Regions from separate parts of the Homo sapiens genome. Here region 2 is linked to region 1. Evidence: fine-mapped expression QTL. Tissue or cell type: lung. Region 1 holds a variant in brackets; the other region holds the start of a gene. All regions are shown on one strand. Distances are between the middles of the regions.

Region 1 (8,549 bases):
TTTACTTAAACATATGACTATAAGATTTTAAATTACTGAAAAAAAATTTGAAATTAGGACACAGATGTACCCTCCCGAATGTTTTCTCAGTCATCTTGAGTCTCAAGTAGTCATATGTCAACCAGGAGGGCTATGAAGGGCAGAGCCTGTCTGAGTCCTGAATTTACGTACCACTTACAGAGCTTTGAACAGAAGACAGAGCTGTAAAGATGATGCTTGGAGGATGGAACCCCTCCTAGAATAGCCAGGAGGCAAAGCTAAGACAGGGAAGAAGAAGCTCTAGTGGGCTTGATTCTGCTTTGTAGCTACAGGTCTAGGCACTGAGAACATGTACCCAGGTCTCACCTAGCCAGACTTGAGAATCTAGAGGTTCAAAACCCAAAACAAGCTCACAGTCAAATCAAGCAAGTGTTGAATTATATTCAACAGACACCTCTGAAGCCATTCCTATTTACTAACAATATAAAAACTGGCTTTATTTACCAAATGTTATCACATACACATAACACCTATAGGAATACAGACACAGACAGAAGCAGATCTTAGAGCTTTCCTAAAGGATTCTCATTTGCTGGCTTTTAAATAGTTTTTCTATTCACCATTCAGACTATCAGTTTACCAATTAACCTGTTTCATTGCCCTAAGCAATTGTTAGCTAGGCAGCCCTAAATATGCATTTCTAAAGGGCCAATTCTTAGGTCAAACAAGGTAGAAAATGTATATCTCAAAAGCACACAGCTAAGACTTTAGACGTAAATATTGTACCATCATTTGCTCAAACCAAGGAAAAAATGGTGTGAGTAAAAGTTAAGACAAGATGGCCAGTCACCTTAAACAAAGGTATGACTTACTATATAAATTTAAAATAGTGATAAGAGTTCCTAATGTACACAGACACCTTTACAAATGTAAATTTCCTTTATAGATATAAATTGATTTTACCAAAAGGGTTTCAGGATAGCCTTCAGTATAGCCAGTTGAATGCCAGAAAGGTATACTTTAGTTCCATAGATCGTTTTTAAAAATTTAACTACTGTTTCTTAGCTAAAATTACTGAGTTCAGGGTGGAGCCCACTAAGACAGTAGGGGAAAGACAGCGTTCTTTTTTATTGTTTGCAGTTTACTCAGAAATTAAACAGAAGTATCTTAGTGTCCATGTCCATGCCTGGGCACAGTATGGATAGATCTGAAAAAGAGGCAAGTCAGCTTTACCTAAGGGCCTATATTTTATAAACATTTAATCCAGGCTAGCTTTCTTTTAGCCTTCAGGGCAGTATAGTAACTAAGCCAAAAGGCTAGTAGATTTAATTTGTCTTATCAGTTAGTTAAGCTTTTTATTTGCCTTTTAAAACATCTTTTTTTTAAGGCAATAAAAATATTGAAATATTTTTAGAAGCTTCACTCAATAGGCATTCTTAGATGAGTCTAATTTGGGAGCCCTCATTTTCAAATGCACTTTTTTTTTTGGTTTGGTTTTTAACAGCTTATGGCCATCATCAAATGCACTTCTTAAAGTGTAGTTTTAAGTGTTCATTTGGGACGTTCCATTATAATTTTAAATTACTTTTAGTAAGGTTTTGCCATTTCTATAAGCAAATGGCATTTTATCCTTCTATAAAATGTTTAAAAAGTGCTGCTTCTGGGGCCTAATACTTACACTTGTAAATGTAGGCAGAGCCAGAAGGTAGATTGCTCAGTTCTTCAGAAATTAAGGATCCCATTTTCACCTTGAATCTTGGCTTTGGCTCTCATATTTCCTTGGTAAACTTAACCAGTGATTTTTCTCTACTTAAATGTGCAAGAAGAAGAATTGAAGAGGGCAGGACACAAAAAACCCTGTGAATTTCCAAAAGCCAAAATTTGCACCCCCACCCCCTGCTGTTTTGCCATTTACTGTGCTTCTGCCCGACCCAGTCAGGCATAAGAGGTCTTTAGCTAGATCCAAGGCAGTTGGATCCTGGACCCAGTCCAGTTTTTGTTGCGACTTCTGAATTCAGTTCAGATAGAAAATGTGTTCAAAAAAACTTGGATAGCTCAAAACACAAATGCGCAGAGCTTTAGAATCTGAGAACTTACCATGATTCCTAATGGCTGCAAGAGAGCAGTGGACACAAAGGGCCTAACGGTACCTTACTGGGTCCCCTTGGTGCTCCTGGCGGTCACTGAAAGCTGTACTTCAAATCCCACTTCTGATGCCAGCTGTTTGAAGCAAAACCTTACACAAATTAAATTTAACAGAACTTAATTGAGAAACAGTTTGTGAATCAGGCAGCCCTGAACCAGAATAGATTCAGAGGGTCTTGACTTTCTTTATTTGGTTGCAATTAGCTTGCAACCTAAAGCATAAAAGGTTGTTTCTGTGCCTTTTGGCTTATGGAGAGTGATCATCTTTTTTCGTTTAATTAAGATGTGTTGCTGTCTCTTCTCAGCCATACATGGTATTGAGTTTTAGATTAGAATGGGAAAGCCTAGTATTCTGGCTAGATAATTTTTGGTTATATTACACATTTTCTGAACATCTTCAGATACTTCAGCATACGAGGATAAAAACCACGTAGCAAAGCCAAATGAAAATTATTTTTTGTTTTATTTACACTGGAGTGTTTCATAATTCATGTGGATAATTGTTAGGGCAATGAAAAATCACTTTTGGAATACTAACCGATAATCATGTGATTGACTAGAGGCCGAAGTGTGCTATGTTCCATGTAGATAATTTTTGGAAATAATGGCTTCATTAAGATACAATTCACATATTATATAGTTCATTCATTTAAATTGTACAATTTGGTGCTTTTTAAAATATTCATGTAGTTATGCAAACATCACCACAATTTTAGAACATTTTTATCATCCCAAAAAGGAAACACTCATACCCATTAGCAGTCATTCCCTAACGCCCCAGGCCTAGGCAACCACTAATCCACTTTCTCCATTTAGATCATATTTTTTAAATAATTATTTTCCAAATTATAATTTAGAGCAAATTTGGAAATTTTCTGCTTATTATAGTGTGACTATTCAAAAACTAGTGCTTTTCTTGCATAGTAATGTATTGATTTTCAGGTTAACACCTTTGTTATTTTTCAGGTTCTTACTTAGCACTAGAAGAAATTAATTCTTAAACGGCATCTTATTGTTATTGTAGGGATGAGCGAAGAGCCTCTCTGTTTACTCAATTTTAGGAACACTCTTTTTGGAATTTAATTCATTCCTAAGGCAGAGAAGACAGGGAACAGTATACTAAACCTAAAAAATAAGCAAAAATATTATTTGTGTAAAAATTTTGGTTTTATTAATTGAGATACATTTCTGACTGAAAAATAATGAAATCATGTTGTTATTTTGAATTATAAGTATCAGGTATTCATCTGATTATGCCTAGGTTAATTTTCTTGCTTGTACTATTTATACTATTTAATATTTGGAAACTATTTTAAAATAAGCTTTTTTTTTGCTCAAATCTGCCTTTTCATTTTCTGAATTCAGAGCCACCTTAATAGCTTTTTAGAGTTTTCAGTGAAAAAATAAGAAGAAATTTCTACTTTTGGAAATTTTTAGACTTATGTATGTATTTTCACATCTTTAATATGATTTTCAAGGGATTATGAGTAGACAATGCTACTTGTATTTATAAGGTTTAAAATACTTAATTTGAATTAATCTCTTTTCAGATTCTCTGCAATGACTGTAATGGACGATCCACTGTTCAGTTTCATATATTAGGCATGAAATGTAAGATTTGTGAATCCTATAATACTGCTCAAGCTGGAGGACGTAGAATTTCACTGGATCAGCAATGACGAGCCTACACAGTACTGGAGAACTTGGCATTTTCTGATATAGAAAAAGGCTTTCCTTGGTATCGTGTTATCATGTGTCGTCATCTATGCATTAGAGTTGATGTGTTTTGTACTAGTGTCACAGCATAAAATCATATTACAAGTACGTAAGGATTCAGGGTCTCTTGATAGACTTATCATAGCTCTATATTGAATGAAAGCCACTGTGCTTGTGTTTTGATTGGAAATTCCTTTAGTGTCAGTTTTTTGGAAGCCAATGATGTTTGCCACTGATACATTCATAGAAGTGTATTATATTTTCATGAAGCTTTGCTTTAAGTGACACTACGCGTGCAGTTCATTTCTAGTTCTTGATAGAACTGCACTTAATTTTCAGTAGTAGTCTTGACTTTTTAAGGGCTGTGTTATATTAAGTTCTCCCTTACTGTTAAAACCTAATTAAATATGCTTTAGAATTTTCTAAGACAGTCCTCTGGATCCTCTAAATGTGAATTTTGATGTAATAACTGCTAATAAAATTATATTGAA[A/G]CTGTTTTATAGAAAGTTTTTTCCAAAGTTTTCTATGTTTGGCTCAATTAGGGCAGTATCATCAGTTCTATAATGTAAAAGAAATTTTCTTTCTTTTGAGGTATTCCATAAAAGTAGTTGGGAAAATTATTATGTAAAATAATAAGACTCTTCCAAAGCCTTAATAAAAACATCAACATTGAAAACAGTTTTTTTTAGGTTGCCCAAAATTATTTCTTCAAAGAGTCATTCATTCCTTCATTTAGCAAGTATTTATTGAGCAACTGCTATGTGGCAGATATGTTTCTAGATGCTGTAGAGACAACAGTGAACAATAAAGATAAAAGTCCTTGTCCTCACAGCAGTACATTCTATTGTTCATCATATTTGATCAATGTACTCATTTTTCTTTATGCAAGGAGTGGATGTCTTATTGTAAATGAATAGAATATTTCTTCCCTAAGCGTGTGAAAATAGGGGATGGATGAGTGGGAAGGGCATGGGATATTCCTGGCAAGATCTCTGATTTCATAATACTTTTTTGGGCTCATGTAGTGGAATTAAATATACCTCTTACTTCAGGAACAAAGTTAACAAATATGTTTGATGATCCAGCCGACTTTGACACTGTTATCTCCGTAATAGCTTTACCATTAGGCTAGGATGTAAAATGTACATTTATCAGTTGATAAGTACCTATTGAGCACCAGTTGTATTTCCAACTTTGAGCTATTTGAATCTTCTTTGAATAAGGAAGTTAGCCTTTTAACTAGAAAGCCTAAGAGTTCTGGCACATTTATTTCTTCTTTTGTTGAAATTTATTCACCTAGATAAAGGCAGCAGTTTGGGACTCAGATCTTTATTTTATCCCACCTTCTTGTCTTCTGTATTCCACTCTTCTTATGTTCTTTCCCTTCATCTGTTTCCTTGGCCTGGCCAGAGCAGCAGTGCTGATCTTCATTTGGGAAAGGATGTTCCTGGGTATTACCAATTAGTATACAGATAAGTAAAGACTAGTTTTCCAGATCTAATACTTTTTTTTGAAGTGGTTTTGCTCTGTCATTTAGGCTAGAGTGTAGTGAAGTGATCGTAGCTCACTGCAGCCTTGACTTCCTGGGCTGAACTGATCCTTCCACCTCAGCCTCCTGAGTAGCTGGGACTACAGGTGTGTGCCACCATGCCCAGCTAATTTTTAATTGTTTTGTAGAAACAAAGTCCAGGCTGGTCTTGAACTCCTGGGCTCAAGCATTTCTCCTACCTCGGCCTTCCAAGGGCTAGGATTACAGGCATGAGCCACTGTGCTTGGTCCAGATGTATTACTTTTTATGTTTGGTATTATTCTGCCAAACCAATCATGTTATTGTTTTTAATCATTGAATCATTGGATCTTTAAATAGGAGTGAGTATATAATAATAAGGCTCTTCTGTTTTCAACATCTGTGCTGGGTCATGCATTAGCATTAATTACTACAATGATTCTGTGGGGTAAGTGTTGTCCTCATAGACAAGAAAGCTGAGGTTTAGAGGTTAAAATGACACATTGGGGGTAAATAACAGACACTATATGTTGGAGTTGGGAATCAGATCCAAGTTTGACTCCAAACCCACTTTTACCACATTGCTTTTGATCTAAACTTCTATTTTGCTAAAATACCCCTCACAGCTAGTCATCCATATCATTGAAGCGCTCATGATTTGATAGATTAACCTTTCATTTTTTTAGGTGACTCTAGTTAGAAAGTCTTATTTCACAATCTGATTGTTTCTTTAACTTAGGATCCAAACATGTCCAAAATAATGCAGAGTACATATGCAATCACTCGTTTATGCTGTCTAGTCATGCACTTAAAGCAATTTTCAAATGTACTCAAAGTCTCTAGGCTTCGGTACCCAGGGTTGCTTCAAGTATTTGTTCATGACACGTCAACTCGATGATTAAAATCCTTCAACACTTCTCATTCACAATAAGAATAAAATCTACATCCCTTACCATTCAGTATGCAAAACTTAAAATACATAACTTTACCCTTAAATATTTTTTCTTTCTCTGACTTCATAAGTATAGGTTATACCTCTATAAGAAAGAAGGTAAAAAACTCTCAACAATCCCTTCTTTCAGAGAGAACTACTGTTAACATTTTAACAGACAACTTCATTCTTTTCCTATTCTTTTTTATAATGCTTACAGGAATGTTAAATACTTAGACAGATCTTAAGTACACTAGAATTATCTGTCCCTGAAATAAGTTAGGTTGCCCTGCCGCAGAATTTGTATCTATAGTTTATTTGGATTATTTTTGAAAAAAGTAAAATAACAATACCCTTACGAATTTTTTGGTGCATAGCATCTCAGCTTCTTTTATCATTAAAGATGTATGTATAAAAAAAAAATGAGTGTATATCAAGTTGTTCATTTCTTAGTTTCTGGGGTCTTCTTAACCAGTACATAGAACTCTTTATGAATTAACTTTAGCTTATGTTGGAAGTAGTAGTTTGTTTATAGTGTCATGGATTTTAAAATCAAACTCAGTTTTTATTTCTTCACTAAAACCTATTTTCATATGATATACATGTTAAATTTCCCTTTTATTTTGGTCATGCATCAAAATAAATTTACTAAGTACTAAAGAGCCAACATTATTTTATAAGTGCCTGGCAATAGGTATTCACTAGTTGAATAGTTTAATTTGAAATGAATTAATTTTAAATGGGAGTTGTTCAAAACTATGCCACTTTTTCTTTTGTCCTTTGTGTTATTAAAATTTAATTGATAATTGTGTATATTATATATATGGAGTACAATGTGATGTTTTGATATATGTTTACAGTGTAGAATGATTAAATCAATGTAATAAATTTATTGCCTCATACCATTTTTTGTGGTAAAAAAACCACTTAAAATCTACTCTTAATATTTTTGAAATGTACAATGCATTATTTATTATACTCACCATTCTGTGTAATAGATCAGTAAAGTTTATTCCTCTTGTCTAACTGATATTTTGTACCCTTTGATCAGCATCTCCCCTTTTCCCATCCACTTCTCTCTCCCAGCCTCTGGTAACCACCATTCTACTTCTATGAATTCACCTTTTTTTTAGATTGCACAGATAGCTGAGATCACATAGTATTTACCTTTTTGTGCCTGGGTTATTTCATTTAGTATAATGTCTTCCAGGTTCCTGTCACAAGTGACAGGATTTCTTTCTTTTATAGGGCTGAATAGTATTCCATTGAGTATATATGCCACATTTTGTTTTCATTCATATGATGATGGACATTAAGATTGCTTCCATATCTTAGCTGTTGTGAATAATGCTGCAGTGAACGTGGTGGTACAGATACCTCTTTGACACACTGACTTCAGTTCCTTTAGCTATATGTCCAGAAGTGGGATTGCTGGATCATATGGTAATTCTATTTTTAGTTTTCTGTCTCCATGCTGATTTTAATATTGGCTGTTTTAATTTACATTCCCAACGTCAGTGCACAAGTGTTCCCTTTTTTCTACACCCTGTCAACACTTTTATCATTTTGATAATAGTAATTCTAACAGGTGTAAGGTGATACCTTGTGTTAATTTGCATTTTTCTGATTAGTGATGATGAGCATCTTTTCATATATTTGTTGGCCATTTGTGTCTTTTTTAGGAATATCTGTTTACATCCTTTGCCCATGTTTTAATTGAGTTCATTTTCTTATTAGTGGCTTCAGTACCTTATGTATTTTGGATATTAGCCCCTTATCAGATGTATGATTTATAAATATTTTCTTCGAATTCATGGGTTGTCTCTTCATTCTATCATTCACTTCACTATGCAGAAGCTTTTTAGTTTGATGCAGCGCCATGTATTTTTTGTTGTCTGTGTTCTTGGGGTTATATCCAAGAAATCTTTGCCCATACCAGTGTTATGGAGCATTTCCCCTGTGTTTTGTTCATGTAGTTTTATAGTTTCAGGTCTTATGTTTAAGTCTTTAAACCATTTTGAGTTGATTTTTATATGTGGTGTGAGATAAGGATCCAGTTTCATTCTTCTGCATGTGTATATTCAGTTTTACCAACACCATTTATTGAAGAGACTGGCTTCATTGTGTAGTGTTGGCATATTTATTGAAAGCCAATTGACTATAGGTGTGTTGGTTTATTTCTGGGCTCTCCTGTTCCACTAGTCAACATATCTGTTTTTATGCCAGTATCATGCTGTTTTGATTACTATTGTTTTATAATAGATTTTGAAG
Region 2 (8,549 bases), 31 kb before region 1:
AAACATGGAATTCAATTAGCGTTTACTTATTTGACTGTTCTTTCTTTTCCTGACCTTTTCTTCTCCTGTTCTTAGATCTCTTTTTTGGTTTTCTTCCTTTTGATCCTACCTAGACTTTATGCTTGCATGTATGTGGCTCTTACAAGTACTTTAGTCCTGTTAGTGGTTCTACTCCTGACTTCTGCCCCAGTGTTAAGGACTGCCAACTTGGAACATCAGTTCAACCTTCTTACGTTAACTTCCATTTTTAGACAAAAATCTTCAGTTATGCTAATTCCTAAAGTCAGCCCACTTCATCAAACCTTAGTAATATACAAATATTTATGAGTGGTTACTGGTAAAATACTCCTACTACACATTACAAAAGTTGAAGATGCAGTCTACAAATTTAAAACTTCAAGAACAGACTTCAAATGAATAAGCAAACAATAAAAATGTTAGCAAGAGTGGTGAAGGTTCTTCAATAGTATCATAAAAAGTGAGCAATGGCCAGGCACGGTGGCTCATGCCTGTAATCCCAGCACTTTGGGACGCCGAGGAGGGTGGATCACGAGGTCAGGAGTTCAAGACCAGCCTGGCCAAGATGGTGAAACGCCATCTCTCCTAAAAATACAAAAATTAGCCAGGTGTGGTGGCAGGTGCCTGTAATCCCAGCTTCTCGGGAGGCTGAGGCAGAGAATTGCTTAAACCCTGGAGGCAGAGATTGCAGTGAGCTGAGATCGCGCCACTGCACTCCAGCCTTGGTGACAGAGCGAGACTCTATCTCAAAAAAAAAAAAAAAAAAAAGTGAGCAATGATGGTAAACAGTATCTCATAAACAAACCTGTAGGTGATATGGAGAATCAAAGATAGAAGGTATGACTCCAGGTTTCAGTTTAATATTTGGAGCACTTCTGTCAAAATCTGTCTTCTTAAAGTGCCTCGAACACAACACATCTCCTTTTTTAGGCTCCCAAATGCCGGCTGCATTCACATCAAGTCTTTTCATTGCTAATACCCATTTCCTTTTGATGTTTTCATCTGTGGGGAATCTAGAAAAAAAATACAAAAAATATTTTAAAATCAAATACTATTGCTATATAATTGAATTAAAGCTGCCTTATACAACTGTGACTAAATTGATTCGTTAACTAGTTTATTAGTCTTGAGAATTATAATATTTAGGAAACCATAATTCATGCTTTTGTTACTTTCCGTTTTAATATTCAGATTTTCTGCCAATCATGCTGCAGATATATGGCCCTCATTTCATTTTTTCTCACATTATAAGGAAGAAAAGTTTCAATGGATATTTAGCATCTTATAGTAAGATCCACAATTGAAGGTATTTATTCATCTATAGATGATAAAAGAATTATCACTTGGGCCTTTTCCTATCTGAAATGATATCCAGAATTTATCCTCGATAAAAAGGGCCCCTTGTAATTCCATTCTTCTGTCAGCACCAGAAAATTGCTTAGTACAGCATTTAATACATAGCAGGTCTACAGATGCTTAGTGAATGAATGCAGAGAATAGCTGCAGTGTGGAGTTCTGGAGATCAGAGCTATTTTGAGAGATATGAAGGCCTAATAGCCATATCTTACTCAATTTTCAAGCTGGTTCAAATTTTTCTAAAATAAGGTAGGATATATATGCTCAGTTTTGATTTATTATATCTAACAAAATAGCTAGGAGATCTTTCTCTAACACATAGGACAGTGCCTGGCACAAAAGCAGCAAAATAAACCTTTAACAAGTGAACAACTATTAAATCTTATTACTCCTTCACTTACTCCTTCATGGCTGTCAAGAGAATGGCTAAAATATGAAACTAAAATCATTTTGATTTATTTGCAACACAGCTAAAGATCCCTTGGTCTTAACTTGTAATTTGTATTTTTTCTCTATAACCTATGCTTGATCTACTTCTAAATAGAGAGGGCAATATATTCGAGCAAAGCTCCTTCATTCAGATTGTAAACTACATGTAAACAACATTGAATTTCTTTGGCGGTGTGATAAAATACAAAGTAATAATATTAGCAAAAGTTAGCCTTATGGTATTTTTTGTAAACCAGTCTCTGATATCTTAAAGTCTCTGATATCTTAAAACTTTTAAACTAAATTATAAACATGTAAAGGTATCACATTGTCACTTCAAATTTAACAAAAAGGTTATTTAAAAAGGACTCGGGAACTAAAGTTCAAAATTGAAGACTTAAGTAGAACTGTCTTTTGCTTTTTATAACATGGCCAAAGTATTTGGCTTAACTACAGCAAAATCTTACACGTGAAATGTCAGTCCTTTTAACTTCGAATTTGGCAAGCAGCGAGAAGCACATCCAATGGCGGAGCAGCATTTCACCATTTTAGCAACTCATAACAAAACTGAAAGAAAATTAGAATGTTAAGAGTTAGTAACCGGAAAGCTGAAGGGGAATATTTTCCCTTTCCCGGTGTTTTAGGAAACACAAAATCAGGATAGAAAGCTAAAGACAAATATCTTCTTCTAACACCTGCAGCTTTGCTTACATCATTTTCCAGGGCCTTGACTCTTTAATAAGGAGAAACATATTTAGCTGTGTACCCCGAGTATGATTTCAATTTTGTTGGCTTGTACATTTTCCTTCCACCTTCTAACAGGTACCATGTTCTTTGTGCCACAAAGCCTTTTGCACACTAACTCCTACCCATCTTTCAGCCCTCGGCTTGCATCGCTTCCCCAGGGAAGCCTTCCCTCACTGACACTCAGATTGTCAGAGCTGCTCTAATATTAGCTCTCACAGGACACACACTTCTTCCTAGCACTTCTCCAGGTTGTAATCTTACATTTATTGCAGTGATTGCTCTTATTAATGTCTTCCTCCTCCACCAGTCTTGTTAGTTCCATGAGGTCATGGTGGAGTGTGTCTATTTTTCCTTACTTTTTGTCCTCACGGTTTAGCTGGTGACTGGCAATAGTGAATGTCAGTACATATTTTGAAAGAACAGCAAGTAAACGGGAAAGGGAGGAAGCAAGAAGCACTTCGAGGTGCCAGCGAGCACCCTGGCGTCCAAGAGCAGCGCGCGGGACCCGCTGAGCCCAGGGCCCGGGCCGAGCTCCGCCCCTTTCTCCAGGCTCCCCGCCACCGGAGGGAGAGAGGGAGGACCCGTCACAGGTAACGATGCGCCCAGTGAGCGTCCTTTCCTCTGGGGCCAACCAGCGTCTCCGCGCCGCTGCCGCCAACCTCGCGCCGAACTACGCCCTGAGATTTGGGCGGGTAGCGATTGGGGGAAAACAGGCAACCTAAGAGTTATTACCGTTAGCAGCGAAGACTGCGACTAACGTCAACGACGGAGACTGCGTCTGCCTTCGCTTCCGCCTCGTAGCCCCGGGAACCGGAAATCCGTCTGCCCCGGGTCACGTGCTTAGGAGCCATATTGTCGCTAGTGGCCGCTGGGGCTGGGAGGGGTGTGCTAGAGAGGCGCAGCTTCTCTGGGCGTGGTTTTTATCCTGGGGGAAGGATCGGTGGAATGTGAGGGGAGGTGGAGGAGATGGCGGCGACGGCCCGGGAAGATGGCGCCAGCGGTCAAGAGCGAGGTCAGCGGGGCTGCGAGCACTATGACAGAGGATGTCTCCTAAAGGTGACGCCTTCTATGGACTCTTCCCTGACAAGCTTCCGTCAGGTTGGGCTGGGGCGGGCTGGGCAGGTGGTTAGGCTTGGATTTAAGTTTGAGGTTAACCTGATTTTCAGGATACCTTTTCCACCTGGAACTGGGTTCTTCTTGAGGAGAACGTTTTTGGCAAGGCGATAAGCCCCACCTTTCCTACCTGCTTCGTACCTTTAAAGCAAAACCCTTCTTGGGAAGTGATTAGGCTTGCACAGTGGTCTCTGCCAGTGGGCTTATTCGTCTTTTGCTGCCGAAGTAGACTGAGGCAGCCCCGGGCCTGTACTGGGGTTTTCCGTTCAGGTGTGTGATGAAATAATGGAAGTGGAGATAATGGAAATAAGCAAGTGGAGAACCCGAATACGATTTCAGCTCCTGTGGTAAAGTTTTATAGCCTGCCAGCTTCATGTTAAAGGCAGTGCACATGTTCAGACGTAGGAGAAAACGTGTGTCCCAAAAAAGAAGACAATCATGTAATTGCCATTAAATAGGAAATTATGCATAGGAAAGTGCCTAATAAGCATGTATTGTTACTCTGAGAAAACTTCTTAATCTGTATTTTTTTTTAAATTGGCACGTATTCAATTGAAGTTTCCTGATTTTCCTTGCAAGAAACAGTACAAAAATTTTGCTTAGAAAACTTGAGCTTTGGAACCTCAACCGCCCTATCCCCAAATCTTAGCTCTCCTCTTTAATAACTGATTTTAGCTAGCTCCTCTCTACCCCGTATGTAAAATGGAGATGATCGCGCCTGTTTCATAAAAGTGTATGAGGATTATATACTAAAGGGCGTGTATAGTGTTTAACAGGGCGCATTCCCTGAAGTAAATGAGTAGTAAATATATACCACCATGACTGTTACTATCATCGTCAATCTGAGTATTATTATTTTTTGTTCTTTCACTTCACAAGTCAGCCTTGCTGGTCACTGCCTCATTATTAGAAGCAAGTTCAAGTCTCAGGCCTGTACGTGCATCCTAAACTCTTTTCTATAGGTCATGGCTTGACGAACATTGCTCCACTGAACTGGATGAAGCTCCTTAAAAATGTTGGTCATCCACCAAGTGTTGTGTAAGGAAATTGAATGCTATCCTTATGATTCAATTTCTACTGAGATGTATTATTATTCTTTCAAACTTGAGGTCTAAAACGGAATTTAACATCTTGGTGCCCCCCATAAACCACACAATTAGATCTGTGTATCATAGCACTAAGATACTTCGCCCTAGGTGTCAAACAGTTTTTGCCTTCCCCCGCCCCCCCCCCCCCCTTAAATACCAGAGGCCAAGTGAAGTATTTCAAGGAGGATGTGGTCAGCTGGGTCAAATGCAGCTGTTTGAGTAAGATAACTGAGAATTGCCCTTTGGATTTGGCAAGGAAGAGGTCACTGGTGATCTTGACAAGAGGAGTTTTAGTGGAGAGATCAGGATTAGAGTGAATTTAGGAAAGAATGGGAGGAGTGGAATTGAAAATAGCACTTATAGGGTATTCTTGGGGTTTAGCTGTAAAGGGGAGCAAAAAAAAGATGTGGTTGCTGGGAGATCTGGCACCATATTTTTTCCTCTTTAAGAGAGGAAGTATTACAGCATGTTTGTATATTCTAGGAAATGATACAATAGAGTGAGAACGTTTTATAATGCAGGAGAGAGTGAGAAAACTGTAAGGGCATTGTCCCTGAGTAGCCAAAGGGGATGAAATCCAGTGCACAAGTGAAGGAGTTGGCCTTAGAAACATAGACTGTCAGTTCTTCCTAAGGGAAGGCAGAGAATGAGGTATATTTGCAAGTAAGTTAATAGAGATAATAGGAGGATGTTCTTTTCAGGCCTGTCAGCAGGAAGTATGTTTACTGTTTTTATAGTGAAATAAGGTCATCAGCAGAGTGTTAAGGAGGAAGAGTTGTTAGAGTTTTAAAGCCAGAGGAGAAGAAGTGAAATGATCATCTAAATCTTAGGTCTTAGACTCTGGAAGAATGAGAGAATTGACCAGGGAAACGTGGTAGTAAGTGTCCACCTCATATGAACCAGCAAGGACGGTGATGCTTTTTCTCTAGCCATATTCACCTGCTTCTGATAGAAGTCAAATAGGATTTAACTAGGGTTGGGATTGTTATCTATGAGTGTAGAGGAACTGAGAAGGGAACTAGGGTGTTGCAAGGGGAGACTTGGAGTAAGTTAGGGAGGAGGTAATGGTTAGAGAATTTCATGCTTGGAATTGAGATGCAAAGAGGGTGCCGTTGTTCTGTAGCATTGGTTTTCAAAGTGTGGTGAATGGAACCCTGGGGATTCCTGAAGTCCTTTCAGGGGCTCTGCAAGGCCAAAACTACTTTCTATGAACACTAAGATATTTGTTTTTTTTTTTTTTCAGTCTGTTGACACACGCATTGATGGTGGAAAAGCACTGTTTAGTATTGCTAGTATCTTAGCTTGAATCAAGACAGTGGCACTGAACTATACTACACCTATAGTTTTTTTAAAAAGCCAGCTTCACTTAAAAATGTTGATAAAGCAGTAAAATCGTTAATTTTAACCAAATCTCAACCCTTGAATATATCTTTTAATATGCTGTTCAATGACATGGGAAGTTTTGATCAAACACTTCTGCAAACTGAAATTAGAGGGTTGTCTTGAGGAAAAGCTCTTGTGCAAATTGGATTGTAAAGTGAACTAGTTGCTTTTTTTCATGGAACAGCATTTTTTACTTGAAAAAATTGTAGTCATTCACATTTGGGTAGTTGGCAGACATTTTCTCAAAAAGGAGAAAAGTGAGACTCACTACAAATGAAAATGACAGTATTTGTTGCCAGTGATAAAATTCAAGCTTTCACACAAAAATTAGAATTTTGGAAAACTTTTACTAGCTTTTGTGAGGTTGGAAGCTTTTTAAAAGACTTTTTTTGGTGAGATTTTCTTCAATACCTAAAGACTTTTAATGAATATGATTTTTTGATATTGCATGTTAAATGTGTGAACATTTAGAAGATGTAAATAACTCACTGAACTGGTATTCTCCAGATGACCAATGCATGAGTAAAACATCCATTTGAAGTGCAAGATAGAGCAATAGATTTTAATGTAACCAAGGAAGAAAAGAGGCATCATATCAATCATATTCCTTGATACGATTTCAGATTTCATGTTGCAACTACCCTTTAAGAGTTGTTGTTCTAGTGTAATATCAGAGAATGATATCCATAATTCTCCAAAAAGGCTATTAAAATACTCCTTTCTTTTCCAGTGTACATATTTGTGTGAGGCCAGAGTTTCTTTTTGTACTTCAGCCACAACTGTTTGAATGCATAAGCAGATAGAAGAATTCAGCTGTTTGGGGGGAAAAATATAGTTATTTTTCATTAAAACATGTTATTTATGTTAACAAGTAATGAGTTTGTTACTTTTAAAAAGAAGTAATATTTTAAAAACCTATTCTTTTTAATTTATGATGTGGTATATGTCAATAGATAAAATCCACATAAACCAAAGCTCTTTGGGATTCTCAGTAATTTTAAAAAGTGTGAAGGGATCCTGAGACCAAACCATTTGAGAACTACTGTTCTGCGGTATAACTATGAGAATAGTGGGTTGGAGGACAAGGTTATTGGAAATGACAAAGTTAAGGAACTGAGAGTTGCAGAAAAAGGAAGCCAGTTAAGTGTTAAAATCTTTAAGGAATGAACTACGTTATGGTAAGTCAAGGCATAGGAAGCCTTCAGAAATGAGTGGATCTGCAAGGTCACAGTGTATTGGAAAGTCACTGGCCTGGAAATCTCTTGATATACTTGTAATGGTAAAGTTGCTGTAATGAAAAAACCCAACAGTGATGTAGATTAAAGAGTAAAGGTTTTATTTCTTTCCATTTAACAATTCCAAGGCGAGTGATGCAGGTTGGTGATGAGGCTTTGCTCCACATGGTCACTCCAGGGATGAGATTTTTCTGTTGTATCATTTTGTCATGTTTTAGGGCATGTGGCCATCTGTCTGATATAGCTGAACAATTGTGCCCAGGAAGGAGAGGATAGATTTTGGTGGACAACTGGCAGTCTTTGCCGTGTTTGAAAACAAGGGCTGTCTCTTACATTTGTTGCATTTTGTGCAATATTAGATATGAGGTTGATGATTAATAAAAGCTAGTAAAATAAGAATATAATCTTTATTATTTTTAATGTAAATGAATTTATCTGGAAATGTCTAAGAAGAGGTTGCCTGTTTGCTGTTTAGGCTCAGAATGAAATTGGGGTGTTATATTAGTCTGTTTTCACACTGCTGATAAAGACATACCCAAGACTGGGAAGAAAAAGAGGTTTAATTGGACTTACAGTTCCACATGGCTAGGGAGGCCTGAGAATCATGGCGGGAGACAAAAGGCACTTCTTACATGGTGGTGGCAATAGAAAATGAGGAAGAAGCAAAAGTGGAAACTCCTGATAAACCCATCAGATCTCATGAGATTTTATTCATTATCACGAGAATGGCACGGGAGAGTCTGGCCCCCATGATTCAGTTACCTCCTTCTAAGTCCCTCCCACAACACGTGGGAATTCTGGGAGATACATTTCAAGTTGAGATTTGGGTGGGAACACAGCCAAAGCATATCAGGTGTTGTGGGATTAGTGTTTCAATCTAGGGATTTCCTTCATAATTCTTTTGTTTTAAAGTTGTGTTCAACTTCATACAGACGTAGTGATGTTGAAGGGAAGAATTAACATAAAATATGCCAAGAAACTAGTGAAATGTTATGTTTAGGATCAGTTTAGCAACTGATCTATTGGTTGTAATCTTTCAGTTCCATCCAGGAGGAGGAGGAAGAAATTTTCTTTTTGTATTGCACACTTAGTTTCTTTTGCTTCTTACTATATCTCTTTTTTCTCCGTGGGTGTTAGGCACCTTGCTGTGACAAGCTTTATACTTGCCGCTTGTGTCATG

Evidence for each region. PIP is the estimated chance that this variant, and not a neighbour inherited with it, causes the effect.
Region 2: it holds the start of RCHY1, and the variant in region 1 is fine-mapped to the expression of RCHY1 in lung (TOPMed, PIP above 0.99). The same link has a PIP of 0.9 or more in fibroblasts, subcutaneous fat and tibial artery.

The regions. Positions count from the first base shown.
Region 1 is chr4:75,477,792-75,486,340 of GRCh38, reverse strand. It overlaps RCHY1 (ring finger and CHY zinc finger domain containing 1), which reads left to right. Exons shown (of 9, transcript NM_015436.4): 9 at 3,675-7,308. The coding sequence ends at 3,803. Among named protein-coding and RNA genes, the nearest start is that of RCHY1, 32 kb to the left of the region's middle. The variant A/G (reference allele first, on the strand shown) is at 4,332.
Region 2 is chr4:75,509,254-75,517,802 of GRCh38, reverse strand. RCHY1 (ring finger and CHY zinc finger domain containing 1) reads left to right here and starts at 3,400. Exons shown (of 9, transcript NM_015436.4): 1 at 3,400-3,606; 2 at 8,507-8,549. The coding sequence starts at 3,517. It overlaps THAP6 (THAP domain containing 6), which reads right to left and starts at 3,330. Exons shown (of 5, transcript NM_144721.6): 1 at 3,283-3,330; 2 at 2,271-2,370; 3 at 824-1,031. The coding sequence starts at 2,350. RefSeq lists enhancers at 2,635-2,854, 2,430-3,360, 3,195-3,674, 3,361-4,291.